3 linked regions of the Homo sapiens genome follow. The protein of the gene in region 2 interacts with the protein of the main gene of each other region in a pairwise test. Each region holds a gene or a part of one and is shown on either strand. Other genes may lie near its edges.

The links. The genes of interacting proteins can lie anywhere in the genome.
Region 1: the proteins of ATP7B (region 2) and GLRX interact in a two-hybrid assay, tested with the Homo sapiens proteins (one study listed by BioGRID).
Region 3: the proteins of ATP7B (region 2) and DCTN4 interact in a two-hybrid assay, tested with the Homo sapiens proteins (one study listed by BioGRID).

The regions. Positions count from the first base shown.
Region 1 is NC_000005.10:95,819,495-95,827,619, forward strand, and holds the start of GLRX (glutaredoxin-1), read right to left. Parts: upstream 3,233-8,125; 5' UTR 3,169-3,232; coding exon 2,962-3,168; intron 1-2,961. UniProt on the Homo sapiens protein: Has a glutathione-disulfide oxidoreductase activity in the presence of NADPH and glutathione reductase. Reduces low molecular weight disulfides and proteins.
Region 2 is NC_000013.11:51,931,810-51,938,564, forward strand, and holds the end of ATP7B (copper-transporting ATPase 2), read right to left. Parts: intron 5,871-6,755; coding exon 5,667-5,870; intron 5,585-5,666; coding exon 5,467-5,584; intron 3,887-5,466; coding exon 3,784-3,886; intron 3,221-3,783; coding exon 2,947-3,220; 3' UTR 2,509-2,946; coding exon of another isoform or gene 2,481-2,508; 3' UTR 860-2,480; downstream 1-859. Other genes in the region: TMEM272 (transmembrane protein 272), read right to left, coding at 2,481-2,508. UniProt on the Homo sapiens protein: Copper ion transmembrane transporter involved in the export of copper out of the cells. It is involved in copper homeostasis in the liver, where it ensures the efflux of copper from hepatocytes into the bile in response to copper overload.
Region 3 is NC_000005.10:150,755,786-150,763,415, reverse strand, and holds the start of DCTN4 (dynactin subunit 4), read left to right. Parts: upstream 1-4,398; 5' UTR 4,399-4,422; coding exon 4,423-4,557; intron 4,558-4,717; exon of another isoform or gene 4,718-4,855; intron 4,856-4,908; exon of another isoform or gene 4,909-5,300; intron 5,301-5,467; exon of another isoform or gene 5,468-5,495; intron 5,496-6,928; coding exon 6,929-6,999; intron 7,000-7,630. UniProt on the Homo sapiens protein: Part of the dynactin complex that activates the molecular motor dynein for ultra-processive transport along microtubules.

The DNA.
Region 1 (8,125 bases), on a different chromosome or scaffold from region 2:
AAAACAAAAACAGGTTTTACCAAGTACATGGCTTGATTGAAGCCACTAACTTTCCATAATCATGTCCTGCTGATTACCTACTAGATACAGCTACTTTATAGAATAATTAAGACTGCAGGATCAGGCCGGGCGCCGTGGCTCACGCCTGTAATCCCAGCACTTTGGGAGGCTGAGGCGGGTGGATCACGAGGTCAGGAGATTGAGACCATCCTGGCTAACACAGTGAAAACCCGTCTCTACTAAACATACAAAAAATTAGCCAGGCATGGTGGCAGACGCCTGTAGTCCCAGCTACTCGAGAGGCTGAGACAGGAGAATAGCGTGAACCCGGGAGGTGGAGCTTGCAGTGAGCTGAGATTGCGCCATTGCACTCCAGCCTGGGCACAGAGGGAGACTCCGTCTCAAAAAAAAAAAAAAAAAAAAAAAAACCCTCGGGAGCTTTCAGACCCTTTGAATACAAACACTTCCCTGTTGGGGATCAAACATGCAGCTTTAAAAGGCTTGTTCTTCCCCTAGGAGGAATGCACTCAGAATTCAAGAATCTGTGAAAAACATTTTTCTAAAAATGAAAAACAGGCTTGTTGAGGTGGATCACATCTGTAATCCCAGCACTCTGGGAAGCTGAGGTGGGAGGATAGCTTGAGGCCAGGAGTTCAAGACCAGCCTGGGTAACATAACAAGACCCCCATCTGTACAAAAACTTAAAAAATTAGCTGGGTATGATGGCTCATGCCTGTAGTCCCAGCCACGGGAGGCTGAGGTGGGAGGGTCACTTAAGCCCAGGAGTTCGAGGCTGCAGTCAGCTATCATTGCACCACTGCACTCTAGCCTGGGTGACAGAGCAAGACTCTGTCTCTTAAAAAAAAAAAAAAAAAAAAAAACCTTAAAAGATTACTACAAGAAATATTGTTGTTCTACAAAGAAATGAAAAAGCAATTGTTGACCAGGTGTGGTAGCTCACACCTGCACTTTGGGAGGCTGAGGTGGGTGGATCACCTGAGGTCAGGAGTTCGAGACCAGGTTGGCCAGCATGGTGAAACCCCATCTCTAATAAAAATACAAAAATTAGCTAGGTGTGGTGGCAGGTGCCCGTAATTCCAGCTACTTGATTGCTTGAACCTGGGCGGTGGAGGTTGCAGTAAGCCAAAATCACACCACTGCACTCCAGCCTGGGCGACAAGAGCGAAATTCCATCTCAAAAAAAAAAAAAAAGCAATTGTTAAATGAACACATGAAGAGGTTTGCTTTACCTCCTGGAAAATAGATGCTGTTGGGCTGAGAACAATAATCCCAATTGTGTTGCACATTGGAATCCCCAAGGGATTTTTCCAAATAAAAATCCCAGGTGTGGTGGCTCACCCGTTTAATCCCAGCACTTTGGGAGGCCGAGGTAGGTGGATCGCCTGAGGTCAGGAGTTCGACACCAGCCTGGCCAACATGGTGAAACCCCGTCTCTACTAAAAATACAAAAATTAGCTGGGCATGGTGGTGGGCGCCTGTAATCCCAGCTACTTGGGAGGTTGAGGAGAACCCAGGAGGCAGAGGTTGCAGTGAGCCAAGATTGCACCATTGCACTCCAGCCTGGGTGACAAGAATGAAACTGTCTCAAAACAAACGAACAAACAAAACTAATGCTTGGCTCCCACCTCTGACATTGTGATTTAGTTATTGAGGGGCATAATTTGGGCATAAGGATTGTTTTAAAAGCTCTCTAGGTGATCCTAATGTGCAGCAAAGTTTGGGAACCAATGGCTAAAAGGTCCTCAGGGTGGCAGCCACAGTGGGGCCCGTAGTAGTGTTTGCACTGCCCTTTACACCTCTCAGGGCCTGGGCATCCTATGCAGCTGGTGGTCCCACTAGGCAGCAAGAGCTTCTCTCGTCATTGTGTATACTCCAGGACCTCAGCACACAGCAGTAGGATAACACACTAAGCCCCCTTTCTGCACCAAAATGCTGACTTCTTATTAGAGAGAAGGGGAGAGAAACAACCTCCAATGCTTTATACTCAGAACCCAGAGACAACCTTGTAAGTCAAACTAAAACTGAAATAGGATATGTGCTTGGCCTAACACTGTGCTGTAGAATTCGTGCATCGTAAAAGAGAACTTAGCTGAGCTGGTGGGACATTTCTCATCCCACCTCACAGCAGAACTGATACAGGTGATGTGGCTGGCATCCCTCCTGAAGCCCAGGACGCAAAGCCAAGGATGCTGAAGAGAGGGAAGTCTTTCGGATGGAGGAGAGCAATTTTTAGAGGGTCCCACAGTCTATTCGTAGCAAATGGGACTCTGAGGTCACCTAATCTGGTCTTGCAGCTGGGATCTTTGAGGACTACTGGGGTGGTGACTTGCCCAGGATCACACAGCCAGCCATTATAAGAGCCAGGCCAGAACTCCAGGCTATGATTCCCTACAATGTGGGGCCTGGAAACATCCATAATTAATTTAGAACAAGGGGCAGATAACGGTACATTAGATTTTTCCAGTGGGAGGAATTAGATAAGGAAGAATGAGCAAATTAGAAAAAGAAAGCCTAGAGAAAAGAATGAAGAACATGAATCTCATGTTAAATAACAAACACATCACACCCGGCCCTCCACCCCAGCTTCCACCTCCAGCCCTGCCAACTGAAAACTGTCATTTCCTGGCAGTGCTTAAAACAAAGACTCTAGATAATTCCCCAGGGACTCACCGGCAAGCTGCTGGTCCCACTTACCCTGCCGCACAGCAGACATCAGCTGTACTCCCTCTTCTGCCCCGTGAAGACCTTTGGCTGCAGTGCCGCCGCTCATTCAAGTGACCGAGATCCTCTCTAAGGCGCCCTCCCCCACACCCCCCGCCCCGCACAGCCCTCTGGACGCCTTGAAGTACGGAGCCGCAGCCTTATCCTAAAGAAAGGCACAGCTCTGACAAGAAAAGGCAATCCGGGAGCCTTTCCCTAGCCGTTTAAAATGAAACTCACCGTTCTTGCTCCCGTGAGCTGTTGCAAATAATCTTGAATCTCGTTAGTGTGGTTGGTGGCTGTGATATCGACAAATTCCAGAAGCCCTTGTTTGATGGGCAATTGACTGAGGATCTCTTGGGCCCTCCTGCAGTACGGGCAGGTGGGCTTGATGAACACAACCACCTTCCCAGGCTGGATTTTGCAGTTCACAAACTCTTGAGCCATGCCGATGGGCTGCGGTCTCCCCGGGAAGAATCCTCAGTTGCAGGTATTGCTTGGGGTATTGAGCCCCGACCCAGCCAGTTGGCTCCTATTTAATAAGGAACCTCCCTGGAGGCGGAGTTTGCCTGGTAGCTTGCTCGAGTTTTAAAGGGACAGCTTCGAAGACATTTCCATCTGGTATACTTCACTAGTTAGCAATGCCCAGGAATGCAATACTTGCTATTTAATCATTGGTAGCTATGAAAGACACTCTGGGTATCTTTGTTGTCCTTGGACATTTGGGGAGTGCCTGCCCATTGGCAATGATCAGAGTTTAGTCACCTCTGGGGAAGCATAAAGTGCTTACTCACAAAGGGGCTGAGGAGGCAGTGACTTCTTAGAGCAAATTCTTGTTTTCCCTCTAGGAGATACAGTTGTATTTTAAAATGCAAACAGAATCACTTAAGAAACAGAACACTTGGAAATCTCTTTAGAAGAAGTGAAATTGAAACTGTGACTTTGCACTCCTCATGAAGGTTGCTCTCACAGCATTTTGCTTGGACTGTATGGTGGGTGTTTGTTGTTGTGATCTTTTTAATGGAATTCATTCTCAGTATTTAAAAATCTGGAGGTCTCACAAAACAATTCGGACTTAAAACTTCTCTCTGAAAAGTCAGGTCGGGCAATACAGAGCTTGCACCTTTTAGTGGAAGCTGCTGGGGCTGACAGCTGTTGCCCCCTTTGTATAGGGCAAGTAGTGGCTTTGGTTTGCCACAGGTCCCAACGACAGGCCCATGCCTGAGACACCGGCTTCACCCCATAACCATTTGAGTTGGTAACCCTTGAACAGCAGTTTAATATGGAGGCAAATTCCAACACAATCCTTGATACAAAACTACAGATGAAATGAGAATCTTTTTTTCTGGTTGAGCCTATGTTTGTGACCCTCTGCTTTTAACTGTTTGTGAGGGGAAGTAGTGTTGTAACTCAGACACCACATTCACTTCAAGTGTTATAAGACACGGGTTGTAACAGTAGGAAATCTTTCGCTCTTCCCCAGGGTGCCCATTCTCCTTATCCCGCAAAGCAAAGTCCTCTACTCCTGGGTCTAGTTCCGGCCCCCTCTAGTGTATGGTAGCTTAAATAAACAAATCAAGGAAAAACTATGTCCTTTAAACGTGAATCATCCTTTCCCCAGGAAGTTTTATGGTGAAACCAGAGTATCTTCAAAGAGGCGGGGCCAAGGCCAGAGCTGGACACCACGACTGCCACGTAAGAGGAATCCCAAGCATACTGCGATCAAGGGAAGGGAAGAAAATCCACTCCCAGAAGCAGCTTTTTACTGTGACTCTCATCGTTACTAGAATTAAAATGGCAAAATGAGAAAGCCAGATTCTGAGTCACGGAGGGGGAGCTAAGTGACAGCTCTGTCCAGAGAAAAGGATGTGGCAGGGCTGGGAGGCCCCTCACGTGGTCAGGGCTCCGGACTTCCCACTTCCCACTTCCCTCCAAAGTAGGCTCTGCCACAGAGTCTGAGCCTCCTCTCTTTTTTCATTCTTTTACCTCAGAACCCTGTGGCCAGGCTCCTTCCAGAGGCCCCTGCCAGGAGGTCCAGGGTCTGTTTCAGGGCCCTCAGGCTGTTGCCTTAAGTTCCCTCAGCCTGAGGTTTATCCACACGACTTGCACCTGCTACTCACTCAGAGCCTTTCTCTTCTCCGGTCTGTTGTTGGCTCCTCCCTTCCTGGTGCCTCAGCCTGCCACTGTGTTCAAGTTAAAAGCCACCACCACCACCACCACTCCCCATTTCCTGCTTTCCTGCCTCTGCCCTTTCATGAAATTTACTGTCTGTACCTTTCTCACCTCCATTCTCTCATTTTGTTGTTATCTGACCTTGTCAACCATTCTGCTGAATTGTTGGCAGACACTAATCATGGCCTCTATGTCACCAAATGACCATTTAGCTAGGTATCCTGACCTTTTGCAAATTAGTCACCTGCCCCAAGAGGCTGGGATCCAGGGAGACTATTGTCTGCCTCTCACTCAGTCCCGGGGACTGCCTGGTGTCTGAAGCCTTAGGACAGATGGCCATAAGGCACAAGCTAAAGGCAATTTTTTTGTGAGGCACCATGTGGAAAATGGGAGACAAAGAGATGGCAAAGAACGGGTGTCCTCTCCATTTCTCAGAAAATGCTGTGGCTTCAACTCAGTGAAAAATGACAAGCATAGAAGCCTCTGCTGCATTGTACAGCAGGAGCTGAAACCCAGCATGGACCTTAGGGCATCTCAATGGAAAGCCGCCATGGGGACTGCAGATGCGTCAAGTGCTGTGGATGGAAAGAGGGTGTGCGTGTGGACTAACACGTGTGGACTCTCCTTTGGCTTGTGTGAGACACTCCCAGGCACTCTCAGAAAATACACCTTGGAGGGTGGGAAGTGAGGGCATTTTTTAGGGGAGAATCAGTCCTGCTTTACAGATGGTTGGCAACAAGCTAGTGAAATATGTGTGGTTACTCTTTTTTTTTTTTTTTTTTTTTTTGAGACGGAGTCTCACTCTGTTGCCCAGGCTGGAGTGCAGTGGCACGATCTCTGCTCACTGCAAGCTCCGCCTCCCGGGTTCACACCATTCTCCTGCCTCAGCCTCCTGAGTAGCTGAGACTACAGGCACCCGCCACCATACCCGGCTAATTTTTTGTATTTTTAGTAGAGACGGGGTTTCACCGTGTTAGCCAGGATGGTCTCGATCTCCTGACCTCGTGATCTGCCCACCTCAGCCTCCCAAAGTGCTGGGATTATAGGCGTGAGCCACCGTGCCCGGCCAATGTGACTTCATTTGTACTCACAGGCTGATGAGGGCTGCAAAAAATGTGGCCACAAACGAACATTCTTCAGGGTTTTTCCTTACCCACTGTGCAGGGTTTGACCTTGTAGATCACTGCAGGCCTCTGGAAGTTCTCTTCCCACTGCCCATTGCAGCATGATCTTTTTGCTCTTTCTATTGGATATTGTCTCAGTGTCTTTGTTAAGAATTTTGCCTACACATATGGTCTATCTTGGGGCTTGATCTTCTCATTGTGTACACACCCACTCCTTGAGAGGTCGTAGCTCCACACATGACTCCAGCTGTCAGCTTTTTACTGATGAGCATCACGTTTTTCCTTATCTGGACCTCTCTCCTAAGCTTCAGGGAAGGCTATCTCATTGCCTACTGAAAAGACCCACCTGGGGATTCCTTAGGCCTCTCAGCCTCTAGGCAGCCAAAACTGAATCTCCCCTGAAGCCACCCTCTTTCCTCCATACCTGCTCATTGAGCCTGCATGCACCTTCATGTACCTTTTCGGCCAGGGCGGAAACCTGGCAGGCATCTGTGCTGGCCTCTGCTTTCACTTATGCATAGTGGCCAAACCCTACCAAGTTTGCCTCCTGAGTGCCTCCCTGGTCTGAACACCTGACTGCTCCTGCTGCTCTAGCCCTCATTAGTTCTTCACTCCCTCTTGTAGCACCTCCACCCTCGCCTCACTGCCTACTCCACACTGCTGCTGGGGCAATCTTTAAAAATACAGAACCTATCTTGTTCCCTCTTAAAACTAGTCCATGGGCTGGGCGTGGTGGCTCATGCCTGTAATCCCAGCACTTTGGGAGGCTGAGGCGAGCAGATCATGAGGTCAGGAGTTTGAGACCAGCCTGGCCAATATGGTGAAACCCCATCTCTACTAAAAATTTAAAAATTAGCTGGGCGTGGTGGCGTGTGCCTGTAGTCCCAGCTCTTTGGGAGGCTGAAACAGGAGACTCTCTTGAACCCGGGAGGCAGAGGTTGCAGTGAATGGAGATTGTGCCACTGCACTCCAGCCTGGGTGACAGAGCAAGACTCCAACTCAAAAAACAAACAAACAAACAAACAAACAAAAAACTAGTCCATGTTTCCCCAGGACAAAATCCAGATTTCCCTGTGGGGATGTGGCCCTGTGTGATGGGTCCTCCCTACCTTGTTCATCGTATCCCAGCCTCCCCACCAACATTTTAGAGACAGGAGGCAGCCAAGGGTCCCTGGTGAAACCCTGCCTCCAAGTCTAAAACAACCTGAAGGCTGAAAAACTGGACTGCTGTCCTAGTACTTTGGGAGGCCAAGGCAGGTGGATCACCTGAGGTCAGCAGTTCAAGACCAGCCTGGCCAACATGGTGAAACCCTATCTCTACTAAAAATACAAAAAAAATTAGCTGGGCATGGTGACAGGCGCCTGTAATCCCAGCTACTTGGGAGGCTGAGGCAGGAGAATCACTTGAACCCAGGAGGCGAAGGTTGCAGTGAGCCAAGATCGTGCCATTGCACTCCAGCCTGGGCAACAAGGGCAAAATTCTGTCTCAAAAAATACCAGAAACAAAGACAAAAATTGGACTGCTGGTCCTGGATGAGGCCCACCTTTTCCTGACTGATTCTTTCTGAATAATGCCCACCTGTGCACTGGGAAGGCGGAATGGAACTTTGGGAAGTTTGCACCGTTTGCAGCGAGGAGGAGCCTGGCCTCTCCTGTTCCTGTGTGCTGACCTGGAACTCAATCTGTGAGCCGGGAAACCTGCTATCAGGACTCTCTCTTGCTTTGCTGAGAATTATTTTTCCTTTTTCCTTTTCATCCAATAAATTCCATTTTCCTCACCCTTCTGTGTGTCCGCAAGCCTAATCTTTCCTGGTCGTGTGACAAGAGCCCAGTTTTACCGGAACTAAGGGGAAAGTTCTGCAACAATTTCTCCTTTGCTCCAACTGTGTGGACTCTGAGCCATTTCGTCATTGCTGCCACTCACACTTTGGACCTGCTGCTCCCTGTGCCCAGGGTGCCCTTCCTCTTATTTCTGTGTGGCTGACTCCTGCTGGCCCAAAGGGACTCAGATCAGGATGGTGTGTTAGCACCTCTAGGAAGTACCCCAAAACACACACCTCTTTCCCCCATGGGATGGGTGCCTCTCCATGGAGCTCACATGTCATACT
Region 2 (6,755 bases):
GGGCGGGGCTGGCCATCTAGCTATGCAGTCACAATGAGCCATGAGATAATCACCTCAATGATTCTACAGAGATGTGTAGGTACCAAGACGTGGATATGGGGGAGAACCTTGAAATATGATAACGGACTATGCCACCAGCATGTCTCTGGAACCTATGATCAGGCAAGGTTCTAAAGTACGTAGTCTGTGTCAATGGAGATGTCACAATGTCTATTTCCCTTTGAAGGAAGGTGAGTATATGTCCCAGTTTGCCTGGATAGTCCCGGTTTAGGCCAGTTGTCCTGGCATAACTATTCATAGTGCCTCCTTCCACTCTTTGAAGTGTCCTGGTGTGGGTGAAGATTACACTGTCAACTCCCTTCAGGTGTGGCTCACTTACACCCCCCGGCCACCCCAAGATGCCCACAGAGCTTTCCCAGCAGAGCCTACTAGTCAAGATTTTTCTGCTCCTCCTCCTGACTCACTCCCTCAAGGCCAAGGAACCCAAAACATATCCCTCCTGATTGAGATGTGTTTGAGAACAGCCTTTTGCAGACACTCACCCTAGAACAGAGGGGTGCAAACGATGCGGTAATTTAAGCCTGTGTCCGATCCAGCGGGGCAGGGACTTTGACAGGAGCTGCCTTTCAGCGTTCTCCCCACACGCCGCTGAGGCAGGCCTGCATTAGAGAAAGGGACTCACACCAGTGCTGGGGATGGCAGATCAAGGGGGCTCTGCCCACCCTCATTCCCCCTACTGTTAAAATCCTATCCTCCTCTGCCCCCTAAAAAGACATGAAGCCAAGCCAGTGCCTCACAGAAGCCCTCGTGAAGACAAGACGGCACTGGCCTCTGACCACGCATCTCACTCACAGGCAGATTTTTAGAGGAATGACAGGAACTTTATTCTAATATTGCATGAAATGTTTTTGAAGTAGAAATGATTATCTGACAAAAAAACTCCTTACACTTTGACCATCTAAAAGGTTATTTTCTATAAAATTATATAAATATTTCCATGTCCATATATGAACACAACGTTTATGGTCCTAAAAGTTTTAAAAATCAACAGAATTAGATTCTTTAGATAATGATCAGCCTAGTCAGAAAACAACATTCCCCAAGCAAGCATAAAGAGAGGACACAATTACTGACGGACAGCGGAAATGTGCTGCGGGCTGGAGTGGGGGGGCTGAAAACAAGGAAAACACAATCAACAGCGCGCTTGGATTTTATAAAATAAAACCCTGCAAAAACTATATGTAAAAAGTGAAACTAACCATCCAAGGTGAAGGTCAGATGACCTCCTGAATCAAGTGCATTCTGAGTTGAAACAATGAATAGATCACCTGGTAGATTTGTTCTTCCAGGAGGCAAGGACCTTTTCCTCGTTTATTCTTATCAGGAAAACTTCTATTCAAGGTAGAAGGACAATAAGAGTGAAGCCTTCACAGCTGACAGACACTGCTTGTCCATTGGCTATGTCATCCTGGGCAAAGTCCTCAGCCTCTTGGAGCCTGTTTCCTTGCCTGTAAAATGTGGACAGTAATAGCTACCCTGCTGGTTGGTTGGGAGGATTAGACGTAATCTATCAAAAGTGCTGCTAAAACTGCCCCTGGCAAGTAATGGACAATGAAAAAAATCACTAAAACTATTTTGTGTGGGAGAAAAGGGTTTCACCCAGAATTTAATCCAACTCTACTAGTTTGCTCCCAAAGGGTTCTGTCAATCACAACCAACTTCAGAGTCTAAAACTGAACCCGTTCTGCTGCTCTGAGAGCCACTGCCAGGTAAACAGATGCTCCCTTCGGGGTGCTGTGGCCACTCCTTTTCTGAAGCCCCTGGGCAGCGTGCAGAATGCAGGCTCAGGGAGGCTGTGTTTTCCTCCTATTTGGGCAGTACCATTTCCTCCAAGCCACACAAGGCCAGGCGCTAGTCACATGAATTCTCTACTGAACCCCACGAGGTGACAGTCAGAAGACTGAAAACGAAGCCCCTTGGGCCGTGCAGGGAGGCTCCTGCACACATACGTTTCCCATGGGGCAAACGTTTCAAGCACCACAGGCTGGGCAGGGATATGGAAGGACGTCCTGAATCGCGAGAACCTACACCCCACAGGAAGCCGAGTACGGACTCTCAGGTCAGGCTCTGAGGCCCTCACTCCAGCTGGTCAGCAACAACACTCTATTGAGAAGCCAACACTCCATGGAGAAGGGGGCTTTAAGCAAAAAAGAACTCTCCTCAACTTGAAGAAGAGTGTGGCAAGCTCCCTGGCTGGGGATGTGTGAGCCAGGAAGCAGGTTCAAGCTGAAATGCACACTCCAGAGCATTGGAGAAGCGCCTGAGAGCAGCAGCAAAGACCACAAGGACATTGGTCCCACCCTCCCAGGTGACAGGCAGGGTTGCGAGGGGTCCCCACTGACAAGCACACAGGAGAGAAAAGGAACAGACTATGTACGAAGAAAGGAACAGACTATGCAGGAAGAAAGCAACAGGCACACCTGAGGTAAACTGTGGTCTCAGAAACATGATGCACACAGACAGGCGTCATCAGAAAGACCCTGACAGTGAGGTCTGCAGTTCTCTGGAAAGGCCCAGTGAGGTTTTTTGGTCCTGATGAAACTGTTCTCCATTTCACAGCAGTCATCCTAAATACTCCAAGCAGAGGTCTGTGAGGAGGGTGACTCGCCTCTCACCTTCTACAGTCCAGCCAAGGACTAGAGTCCAAGACAAAGCCCATGCTGACGGTCCCGTGAGGCCAAGAGGCAGGCAGGGCCGTCCTCTCCAGGCCAAGCCCAGCTGCACCCAGACAAGGCCGCGTGCTGCAGGGCAGGATGACTGGACATATCCAGGGAGCGGAAGTCCCCAAAGCTGGAGGCTAGCTCAGCCCATCCTGCTGCTGGCTGTCCTGCTCAGCTTGTGGTGAGTGGAGGCAAGTCCCTGCCCCGGCCCGCCTGCCTGAAGTCATCAGATGTACTGCTCCTCATCCCTGCCATTCAGGAGCAGAGACCACTTGTCCCCATCATCGTCTGCTGCAGCGCTGTGCCGAGATGGCTTGTCGGACGTCAGGGAGGACAGCGACACCTGGCTGACATAGCTGACCTGGTCCCATGGTGTGGCCCTGGGGGAGTCCCGCCACCTGTCATCCATGCCTATGTGCACACTGACCTGGGATGCCGTCAGGGGCTTCATGTGGCCATGCGCCTGTGCCTCATACCTCTCCAGGTCAGGCTTCTTATAGCTGGAAAGCAGGAACGCAACAGCATCTGAGCCATTCTAGAAACAAGGCTTTTTTTTTTTCTAAGCCTGGTGAAGGCCTCTCATCCATCTTTTAATAACATTCAGTATCAAAACCTCAAGAGTTTCCAAGGAAAAGGACATTAAACTCCCTATGGTTCCAGGAAAGCTCACCTGATTTAGAAACTTCCTAAGCAAATGCCTTGCACATTGTAGGCTGCCACTAACTTTTGTTAAATGAATGCACTCATAAATAAGTGAACATCTTTTTTAAATAAAAAAGTGATAGATCATACACAGGGACCCATGTCTGCTTGATGTTCACATAAACAGCCCTTGAGGAGCAGAGTAAGGGCAGCCCAGCACGTGAATGGGCAGCAGTGAATTGCCTGCTCATGGTGCTGATAAGTTACATGCATGCACACCAGGCTCCATGTGGGCTGCCACTGCAGCATTTGTCCCAGGTGAATGAATGGGAAATGAGAGGCAAGTTCCACTGTGCTAAGCATGCAGAATGACAAGGCCTCCTGGGAGCCTCCCACAGATGCTCCACCTGAGGGGACTCACCACTTGAGCTGCAGGGATGAGAGCACCACAGACACAGAGGAGGCTGCCATGGCCGCTGAGCCCATCCAGGGCTGCAGCACAATGCCGATGGGCATGAAGACACCTGGGGAAGAAAGAACTCGCACTCACACCTAGGTCTGGGGAGAGGAGCCAGGAGAGGGCTTCAGGCACCGGGCTGCCCCACCCTCAGCGGCCCCCAGTGAGGTCTCCACCTGGCGTGCTCAGAAGCCCCTGCCAATGGATCTTGCCCACAGGCCCCCCCCAAAGTGAGGCTTCCTAGAAAGCTGGGTGTGGGATGCTGTTGAGTGGGCCTGGCTCTCTTCCACTCGCCCTGATGTTCCCAGAACCACCCACAGGTGGCATCCCATTTCAGGGCGAGCTCCAGGGCAGCGACAAACCACAAGGAGTGGGAGGAGCGGGAGGAGAAAAGCGGCAGGAGCTGAGGGAGCCAGTTGCCCATCCTGTAGCCACAGTCCCACAGAGGACAAACACGGCTGAGGGCCACAGTCCTTCTCTAGCAGATGATCTCGCCTCCAGGGCTTCATGACATCTTTAGAAGAGGAATGAGAGCCAGGTCCCAGGACAGGGTCAGGAGACAGGTATGGTCAACTTTGTGTGGCAGAGGCACATACACTGGGGGAATTAAGCTCCTGAGCCGGCTCTGGGGACAAGAAGTAAACCTGCCTGACTCACTGGGCTCAGGAAGCCAAGGCCCTGTTACACAAGTCACCACTAACCACTCAGACACAAGGGAGACTGAGGCAGGAATGCTGTGATTACAAACTTGATCTCTCCTCAGCCCATGGAGGAGCACTCTGGAACTTTTCATTGCCATGTTCCTGGGGGCAGGGGGCAGGGAGCAGGGGGCGGGGGAGAGATGGTTCTTAAGGAGGGGGAATGAGGGGGAATTACAAAGCAGAAAAATCTATTTCTTTTCTTTTTCTTTTTTTCTGAGATAGGGTTTCACTCTTGCCCAGGCTACAGTACAGTGGTGCGATCATGGGTCACTGCCACCTCCAACTCCTGGGCTCAATAAATCCTTCTGCCCCAGCCTCTGTACTCCCAGATGGGACTAAGGTGTACGCTACCACGCCCAGCTAACTTTAAAATTTTTTGTAGAGATGGAGTCTCACCATGTTGCCCAGGTGAGTCTTGAACCCCTGAGCTCAAATGACCCTCCTGCCTCAGCCTCCCAAAGTGCTGGAATTACAGGCATGAGCCACCATGCCTGGTCAAAGAGCCATTTCTTTCCATGATCATTTGTGTAACTCAGAGTGAAACTTGGGCAGGATTAATGTTCAGGATAAGGTTCTGAAACACCAATAATTGTGCCTAGCATGTAGCAGATGCCCCATAATTCTTACTAATGATTATTTCTCAGACTATATGACTTAACAAATGGCTCAGAAAATAAGGCCACAATAAAATAGGGATCAGAAAATACAGCCAAGCATCTCCACTAGCTTTTTAGAAAGGACCAGAGTGAATGAAGGTTTCAGGTCCTCTCCACAGTTTCTCATTTAAAGACATATAAAGCAGGGGACATGAAAAAAAAAAAAAAACAGCCTTTCTAAAACGCCTCTAGCCAGCCAGTGAGTGAGCCACTCACTAACCCCAGCAGGAACCTGGGAGACAGAAGCCTTTCTGGGCGCAGCTGGAGCACAGTGGGTAAGAGCTGCCTACCTGCTGCAATGGGTATCCCAACCAGGTTATAAATCAGTGCCAGGACCAGGTTGATGCGTATCCTTCGGACAGTCCTCTTGGAAAGGTGAATGCTAGCCACCACATCCAGCAAATCATTCTGATGGAGAGGAGCACACAGTGAGGAAGGGGTCTGCCCATTGCCCTCCCAGCACCCACAGCCTGGCTGCAGCCACGCTCACTCTGATAAGGACGACGTCGGCTGCCTCGATGGCCACATCCGTGCCGGTGCCAATGGCCACACCCATGTCTGCCTGGGCCAAGGCCGGGGAGTCATTGACCCCATCCCCCACCATGGCGACTTTCTTCCCTTTATTCTGGAGCTCCTGGACCTTGGCCACCTTGTGCGAAGGCAGCACCTCTGCAAAGACTTTGTTGATGCCAACCTAAGACAAAAGGAAGGCAATGCCTAGTGTTGGCAAAAGGTATCAGATAGCAGCAGAAACCTCAAGTTACCCTTGCCCCCTCTGCCCTCGGCCTCTGGGTCCAGTCAGTGATGTTGGTCAACCACACCCTGCAGGTTTGCTGTCACAGGGCCAGTTTATCCCTGGCTCCTGCCCCAACACCCTGCACTGGTTTAGGCCCTGTCCTTTTCTGGATGTGCAAACAACCCCCTTGCTGGTCTCCCTGTCCACGGCTCAGTCCTCCAACTGTCTTCTCCATGTGCTGCCCCCATGGTCTTTCCAAAGCATCCGTCCGGCCATGTCCCTCCCTACTCTCCTGCTTCACATCCAGTAGACCCCATGCATCTCCCAGAGGAGGGCAGCTCAACTCTTGGGTCTGCTTCCGAGGGTCCCAGAGTCCCAGGGTCCCAGGGTCTGGCAGCTGGTGCCACACTTGACCATACCATTCAGCTCCCCGCGGCATCTCCAAACCGCCGTGCTACTCTGTGCCCCTGGGAAATGCTCCTGCTGCCTGCTCTGTCCTGGGAAGGTGCAGTTTTCCTTTCCTAGTCCCTTTCCCGCTTCTCAGATCTACACAGTCACTGGTCCACCTTCCTGCAAGACCATGAGCCCGTCAAGGGCAGACCCCCCTTCACTCCTCACAGAGCCTGGCCCCACACCTGCCTGTCACATTCGTGGTGCTTCGTAAGTGCCTGCTGAATAGATGAACAAGTGCTAGCCAGAAAAGGGGGGAAGGACGCTAAACAGGTCCATAATTAGCAAGGAGGACCATGGAAAACAGGGGTACTGCTGCTTCCCTCAAGGAACACAATTAAGCTTTCAGAAGCCTAGAGCTCTGCACACATTTGGAGGTGCATAATTTCTAGG
Region 3 (7,630 bases), on a different chromosome or scaffold from region 2:
TTCTTTTTCTTAAATATAAAAGTGTCTAGTCCTTTCCTGGATGTTTTTATTTTGACCTCAGGGAGAAGAAATAGTCTTGGTAATTTCTGAGGAAATAAACCCCCAGTGGCTGAATTTGGTCAAACTGAAAAACAAACTGTCCCCTGGCCCAACCAGGGCCTCCCTGTTGCCTAACTTCAAGCCATCCCCTCCCACATGGCAGTCTATGGGCATGAGGAAATCCCATAGGCTCTATCTTCAAAATACAGCCAGAATCCGTGCTCTATGGCACTATCTTCTTTTGCTTGGATCACCATTGGAATTTGCTAACTGAGCCCTGATTCTATCCTTGTCTCTCTACAGTCCATTTCCAAAACGATGTCAGGAATGACCCTTGTAAAATGTGGGTTAGATCACATCACTGCTCTGCTTGAAATCCTGCAATGGTTCCACATTCCCTTCAGAGAAAAATTCAACATCCTTTAAATGCCCTTTGAGATCCTACATGAGTGCACCCCCAGCCCCCATTAACTCTGGGACATCATCCCCCAAACCCCTCCCCCGTGCTCACTCCCTAACAATGACACAGGTCTTGCTGCTCCTCACATACGCCTTAGAGACCTTGTTTAGCTCCTTCTGGAAGGCTCTTTCCCCAGATATCCACTGGGCTCTCGCTCTACCTCCTTCAAATCTTTGCTCAAACCTTACCTTTTCAGGAGGGTTACCCTGACCACACAATCCAGAATTGCAATCCTCCCCTCTCCCCCTATTTCTTGTTCTGCCTTCTAAAAGAAGCAACTGCTTAAAGGTGAAAAAGAAAAAAAAAATTTTTTTAGTTGCCAGCTTCCATATGGCAGCAAGTTCCAGATGGTTTAAAATAGTGTTCATCCACTCGACAAATACTAACCGAGGGCTTGCTCTGTGCCAGGCACTGAGTTAGGCAGGAATTCAGTCTTTAATTCCACTTTGCTCAATTCAGTGAGCAATACACTGGTGCTCTCCTAGAAGCAAGCCTCGGGGTTGGGTGGTGAATTGTGCAAGAGGGAGGGTGAGAAACAGTCTCTGTTTGGCCAAATTTTAGTCAGGCTTCTGAATCTTCTGTAGGCCCATCTGTGCACTTCTCATAAAAAGTGGTTTTAGTGGGCCAGGCGTGGTGGCTCATGCCTATAATCCCAGCACTTTGCGGGGCTGAGGAGGGCAGATCATGAGGTCAGGAGATCCAGACCATCTTGGCTAACACGGTGAAAACCCATCTCTACTAAAAATACAAAAAAATTAGCCGGCCGTGGTGGCGGGCACCTGTAGTCCCAGCTACTTGGGAGGCTGAGGCAGGAGAATGGCATGAACCCAGGAGGCGGAGCTTGCAGTGAGCTGAGATTGTGCCACTGCACTCCAGCCTGGGCGATAGAGTGAGACTCCGTCTCAAAAAAAAAAAAAAAAAGGAAAGAAAAATTCAAAGTTCAGTTCAATTCAAAAGCAAAAACAATTCAAAAGATTTCCCAGAATAAAGGCAGGCCAGCAGTCTTTTGCCATGTTTACACTTGGGAAATTAGCTTTAGCCCTGCCACCACCACATTTCCTGGGCAGTAAGGGCCCCCACAGGGGCTAGCATGGATATTGATGAAACAGGGACTTCTTTTTTCTTCCTCCTCTATTCACTTACTATGACTTTTAGATTAGCCTGTAAATAGATTCAACACAGGAAACCCTATAATTAATATAGTTTTCAAGTAGGAAAGCAAAAGTGGGGAAGGCAGCCAGGGCAGGTGGCCAGCATTGGTGAGAGCAGTTCCCCAGATTCCTAAGCTGTAGAAAACCCTAAGTCTTTGAGGTCAGAGCCCAGATTCGGTCCCCTTCACAAGACCTCATTTGACCAAAGTCTGACTAACTTCCAGTTTTTTCCATTATTATTGTGGATTTACTCTGAAGGACTCTTTATAAAAATGAAAACCACTTTGGGTTTTTCATACTTGGGATATTTAGGGAGCATTTCTTCCATGTGCTTAGTACTTCATACCTTACAAAATGCTTTCACAGCCTGGATGATTTTTTATTTTCACCAAGGCAGGGATTATTCTTCTCATTCTATGTGTCTTGAAACAAGACTCTGAGGTGTAAATGTCTTTTTCAAGATCACATAGCTAGAAAGTGCCAAAAGTATCCACTCAAATTTGATAATATGCCAGGTGGGCAAAACAGTGGGAAATGGATAGCTCATACACTTATAGTGAGAGTGTAAATTGGCCTAGAATTTCACAAGGGCTTATTGCCAGTATTTATTAAATGTGGATATCCTTTGATCTGCCAGTTCAACTTTAGGGTCTCTGTATTAGCCTGAGTTCCCCCTAGAAAGCAGAGCTCAAAATGAGATTCTGCAGGCAGGAAGCCAGGATTGAGAAGTGAATGAGGGTGAGTCCAGGGCTGGGTAGAGTGAAAAAGCAACACAAGGCTACATTATCAAGCTGGTCACCATTGTGCATAACTAGGACTCGATCCTGCTAGAACCCTGAGCCTTTGAGGATGGAAAGTATCTCATTTATCGCTAGTTCCCTCCCCAGTACCTGGCATGTAGCAGGGACAAGATAATTGGCCACTTAATTATTTAAAATCAGTGCTCTAAAAAGTGTCTGTTTTATGTGGATTCAGCTCAAGTCTCCAGCCTTTCTGTACCTGCAGGCTCTGGGACTTCATTTTAACAGCATAGTCCAGAAAAGGGAATTTAAACTCAGTAGAGACTAGTTTATAAACCAGAAAACCAACGAATTCATTAACCTAAAGAAATAATTGCAAATGAGTTGGCTAGTAATATATTCTCTCCTAGGAGCAGATGTCACCTATGAAACTAAATTAGTGCCAGGCTATTGCTTGGTGAACAAGTAATGACTTTTAGGCTCAATTGGTAAAGCGTGACATAAATTGTGAGATTAGCACTGTATAAGCTGAAAAGGTCTATATAAATGTAAGGTATTATTAACATCACCATATTAGAAAATATGCTGGAGGGAGTATACATAGGGGTTATACCTGCAAGCACTAGAGTCAGAGAGAAAAGGGTTCTACCTCCATCTATGAAACCTTATAGAGGAGTCACTGCACTTCCCTGTGCCTCAGTTTCCTGCTCTGTAAAATAGAAATAATGATAGCCACATGCTTTTTGGAGCTGTTGTAAGAATTAAATTAGACAATGTATGTAAAGTTTTGACACAGTGTGCTGCACTTAATAAGTGCTCAATAAATGTTTGCTAATAGTATTCAGTTCCCTTTCTTCTCAATCACCAACTCTAACGTCAGACAGGTAATAATACAACACTACTACAATTATAAAAATGTAGACCTGGTGGCAGGCAACAGAGGCTCCAGTTTCTGCTAGGCAGTTCTAGGTGGTCATTTTACATACTGGGGAGTCCCAGTTAGAGAAAGGGAGTCAGGCTAGTGGGACCAAGGGATAGCAAGAAGAGCAGATGCACTCTAAGTCTGCCTTTCTTCATGGTGCAGGACACGTAGCCCTCCTGTGCAAATAACTCACAATCTTCCTGCACTCAGCTATCACGAGACACATGCAAGTTAGCTCCCTGTAACCTTGGAGTTCTCGGTACTGCACAGCACTCTGCAGCCCAAGAACCATCGGATAAAATCTCCAGCAAGCCTTTGTTTCCTTGAAGTCAGCTCCTCTCTGGCTGGTCTGCCCATTGCAACCTTTCAACGTATTTTCATACCTTCTCTAATAAATCTGCATTTCTTTACCTAAAACTGTTGATAAATTATTTTCCCACCCATGTAATACCAGTCTCACGTAGTCGCTGCTCACCCAAGAGGCAGACCTGAGCCTTAGTTTACACATTAGAAAAACGTAGACGCCTACCAACATTGTTCATTCATTGATTTCATTCCCTCCTTTTCATACTTATTGAAGGTCCACAATACAGACTTAGACCTAACGCTAACTATGTACTCAAAAACCTGCGTTTCAAATGAGATAATGTATGTGAAAGTTCCCAAAGGCCATTGGCAAGACTCAGAAGACAGTGCTGGTGTGACTCCTGTCTTGCAGTCCCCACGGAGCCCTGTCCCTTTGAGACCTTCCATTTGTCTCCTGGATGCTCGCCTGTTAAGTGGGGCAGAGGAGGCCGTCGTAAATAAGACAAAAGATCAGGCTTCCATTCTGGAAGAAAAGAATAAAAGGAGCTCACTGAGTCCAGACCTAATGGCAGTAAGGGCAGTGGACGCTCACAAAAGCGCTGGGGGACGGGCCCAGAGTTGGGGAGAAAACAGGGATCCCAGCTGCGCACGCGCGCTCTGGTTTTCGACGGGCGCAGAGCCGGACGAGGTGGGAAACCTAACGTCAAAGTCTACGTAGGAAGTCGTAGGGAAGGCAGCGAGGAAGACGCTGGCTCTCGGGTCACGTGATGCGCCGGGAGCGTCATCGCCTCCTCCCTCCCCAAGATGGCGTCCTTGCTGCAGTCGGACCGGGTTCTCTATCTAGTCCAGGGAGAAAAGAAGGTTCGGGCCCCGCTCTCGCAACTCTACTTCTGCCGCTATTGTAGCGAACTGCGGTCGCTGGAATGTGTGTCTCACGAGGTAACAGAGTCGCCCTATAGCGAGTATGTGGGGTGGGGGGGGCGCGGCGTTCATGCTAGTCACTGCCACCGGAAGGCTGGAGCTATTTTCCTTCCTTACTGATTGGTTATGTCTTCCGTCACTCGGGTTTGCCTGCGATTTAATTTGCTTCTAATCTGTCACTTGGAAAGGAGGAGCAGCCTCGGGTGGGACTGAGCGGATCTTCTGGTTCTAGAGCGGCCTCTGATTGGACAAACTTGACTTAGGGACCGTGTCTGTCTGCGATGGGGCTTGGTAATTGGGTGGACTACGGAGAAAGGTCTGGGGGTGCTTAGTTCAGGCCACTTAAGGGGCGAAAAACTGCCTTTCCAGGATTTATTGCGAGGATGGAGGGAGGCGCAGGCGTTCTCATTCATAGTTCTCCCATCCTGAAAGTTCTGTTCCTCTTTTGTCCAGAAACTGGGCCCTCGTCAGACTGCCTTGCCCTGTTCCTGACTCAGGCCAAGGCCTGCAGCCGGGAAGAGGTTGGGGCGGCGTGAGTTATGTGAAAAGCGCTCAGAATACAGTATGTCATGTAAGAAGCTGAAAGTGTATTTATGGAGCTAGAGGACAATGCTGTCCTTCCCTGGCACAAGTGGGCGTCCGAAGTTGGATTTTTCAAAAAGAAGACCCCGGCCAGTAAAAAGTCACCAAATAACAAAACCCCAAAACTTCTGCAGCGCTTGGCACATCTTGTTTATTCAGTAAGCTTTAGGGATTAAAAGGCGAGTAAGACATAAAATGCGCTGTTTAATAAGCCATAGTCTTAGTGAAGAAAAAGCTGATAGTAGTAATAGTTGCTGCTTATTCGATACTTGCTATATGTCATGTGCTTTATGTAATCTTCAAACCAATTTAAGTGGATACTTTTTTTAAAAAATTTTTTTTACAGGTAAAGAAACAGATACAGAGTGTTCGCTGTAAGTCACACAGCCAGTAATTTGGGGGTGGGAAGGAGGACCTGGATTTGAATCTAAACAGCCTAACTCAGAGTGTTTTTTACTGAAGATCCCGGGACTGTTAAAATAAATGCATATGAAAACACATACTATAAGCCATTTTATGTGTTATTAATAACTTATTTTATTGAAGATACTTTTCATAATAGGAATAGTCAAGAAAAGCAATTAAATAATACAAGAAAAATCGTATATATTAAAAATATGGCATCGATTTTTCTTCTCATCTCCATTAGCACTTTCCTTATGTGTATCTCCTTGATGATTCCCTATTCCAGCTCCACCTCCAGAATTTATTGGATCATATTCTCCTGTGGTGAATAGAGTGCTCAGTCTCCATGATCTGTCTCTAAGACTCTCTTCAATTAGGACATCCAGTCTGTGACAGCATCTTTTACAGCCTGATGTGTACCTGTGATATGGAGGCCATTAGAGTTTAGGGAAAGATGAAGCTCTGAGGGCTGGGGCAGGCAGTGAAGTTCTAATGGAGAATCTGGGTCTGGAGCTGCACATGAACGGACAAGCAGAATTTGGAAAGGGGGCAAAAAGGAATGACTTGTATTTTGCCTTTTTTGATGAGTCAGTGCAGAGGTTAGTTAGCAATATTGTATTTTATGTTCCTGGAGATTATTTGAGCAACAACTTTATTAATCTTTTCAAATTGACCTGTTTATAGCAGATGATGAAAAAAGCCAGTTTCTATCATAGTATTTATGTTCCAGTGATTGTCTTTTCATTTGCAGGTGACTAGAGTTCTATAATTGTCAAATAGGACCTACATTAAAGAAAATAATTATTCAGACTTTTAAAAAATAAAATGAACTTAAATTTTAGACTCCAGTTTTTTAAGTACAATAAGACTGTCCCATTAATTTGTTTAAAAATCTCTAATTGGTTGGCCATAGCTGACTATGTAAATAAATATTTATGCTTGCCTTCAGTCAACCTGTATTACTTCAATAATGAGAAATCTTTAAAAAAATGTCCTTCAAAACCTAAAAGTATGGTCAAGTTTTATAGTCATATAAAGCTAGCCTAGACAGGAGGATATTTTATCACAATGTTACAAATTGGATTATTTTATTAATCTCTTTATTAATCATAGAATTCTATGGAGTTCAACTGGAAATTGTAGATTGTTAAATAAACAACTTTTAACACATAAAACCCTGATGATGGAATAGGAAAGATCAGAAAAATAGAAGGATTTTTTAAATCCGGAAGAAGAAGAAAAAAAAAAAACAGGTGACTGAAGAAGAATAAACCCTAAGCAGAAAACAGTCTACTTTCTGCTACAGTATAACATATTTTAAAATTCACTATTTGACAAGACATATACACAAGTTAAACTGAGTTCTCCTCTGGTTTTTTTTTTCTTTCTTGTTTCCTCCTAGGTGGACTCCCATTATTGTCCCAGTTGTTTAGAAAATATGCCATCGGCTGAAGCCAAACTAAAAAAGAATAGGTAAGACCTGGACTGATTTTTTTTTTCTTCCTATTTTCCTTGACTGTTCTCTAAAATAGCTAGTTAAAAAGACACATGGGCCAGGCATGGTGGCTCACGCCTGTAATCCCAGCACTTTGGGAGGCGGAGGCAGGGATCACGAGGTCAAGAGGTTGATACCATCCTGGCTAACATGGCGAAACCCCATCTCTACTAAAAATACAAAAAATTAGCTAGGTGTGGTGGCACGCGCCTGTAGTCCCAGCTACTTGGGAGGCTGAGGCAGATGAATTGCTTGAACCTGGGAGGCAGACATTGCAGTGAGCCAAGATTGTGCCACTGCACTCCAGCCTGGGCAACAGAGCAAGTCTTTGTCTCAAAAAAAAAAAAAAAAAAAAGACACATGAAATTAACTTTTTTAACCAGCTCTTTTTCATTTTTAAGCATCACCATTGCCAAAGATGAAATCCCCTTTGATTTTTGAAATAGATTTTCTACTTTAGAACAGTTTTGTACTTCAGAATTATGGTGAAGATAGTATGGAGAGTTCCCATTTACCTCACATCCAGTCTCCCCTATTGTTAACTTTTTACATTAGTGTGGTATATTTGTTACAATTAATGAACCAATACACTACATTTTATTCAGATTT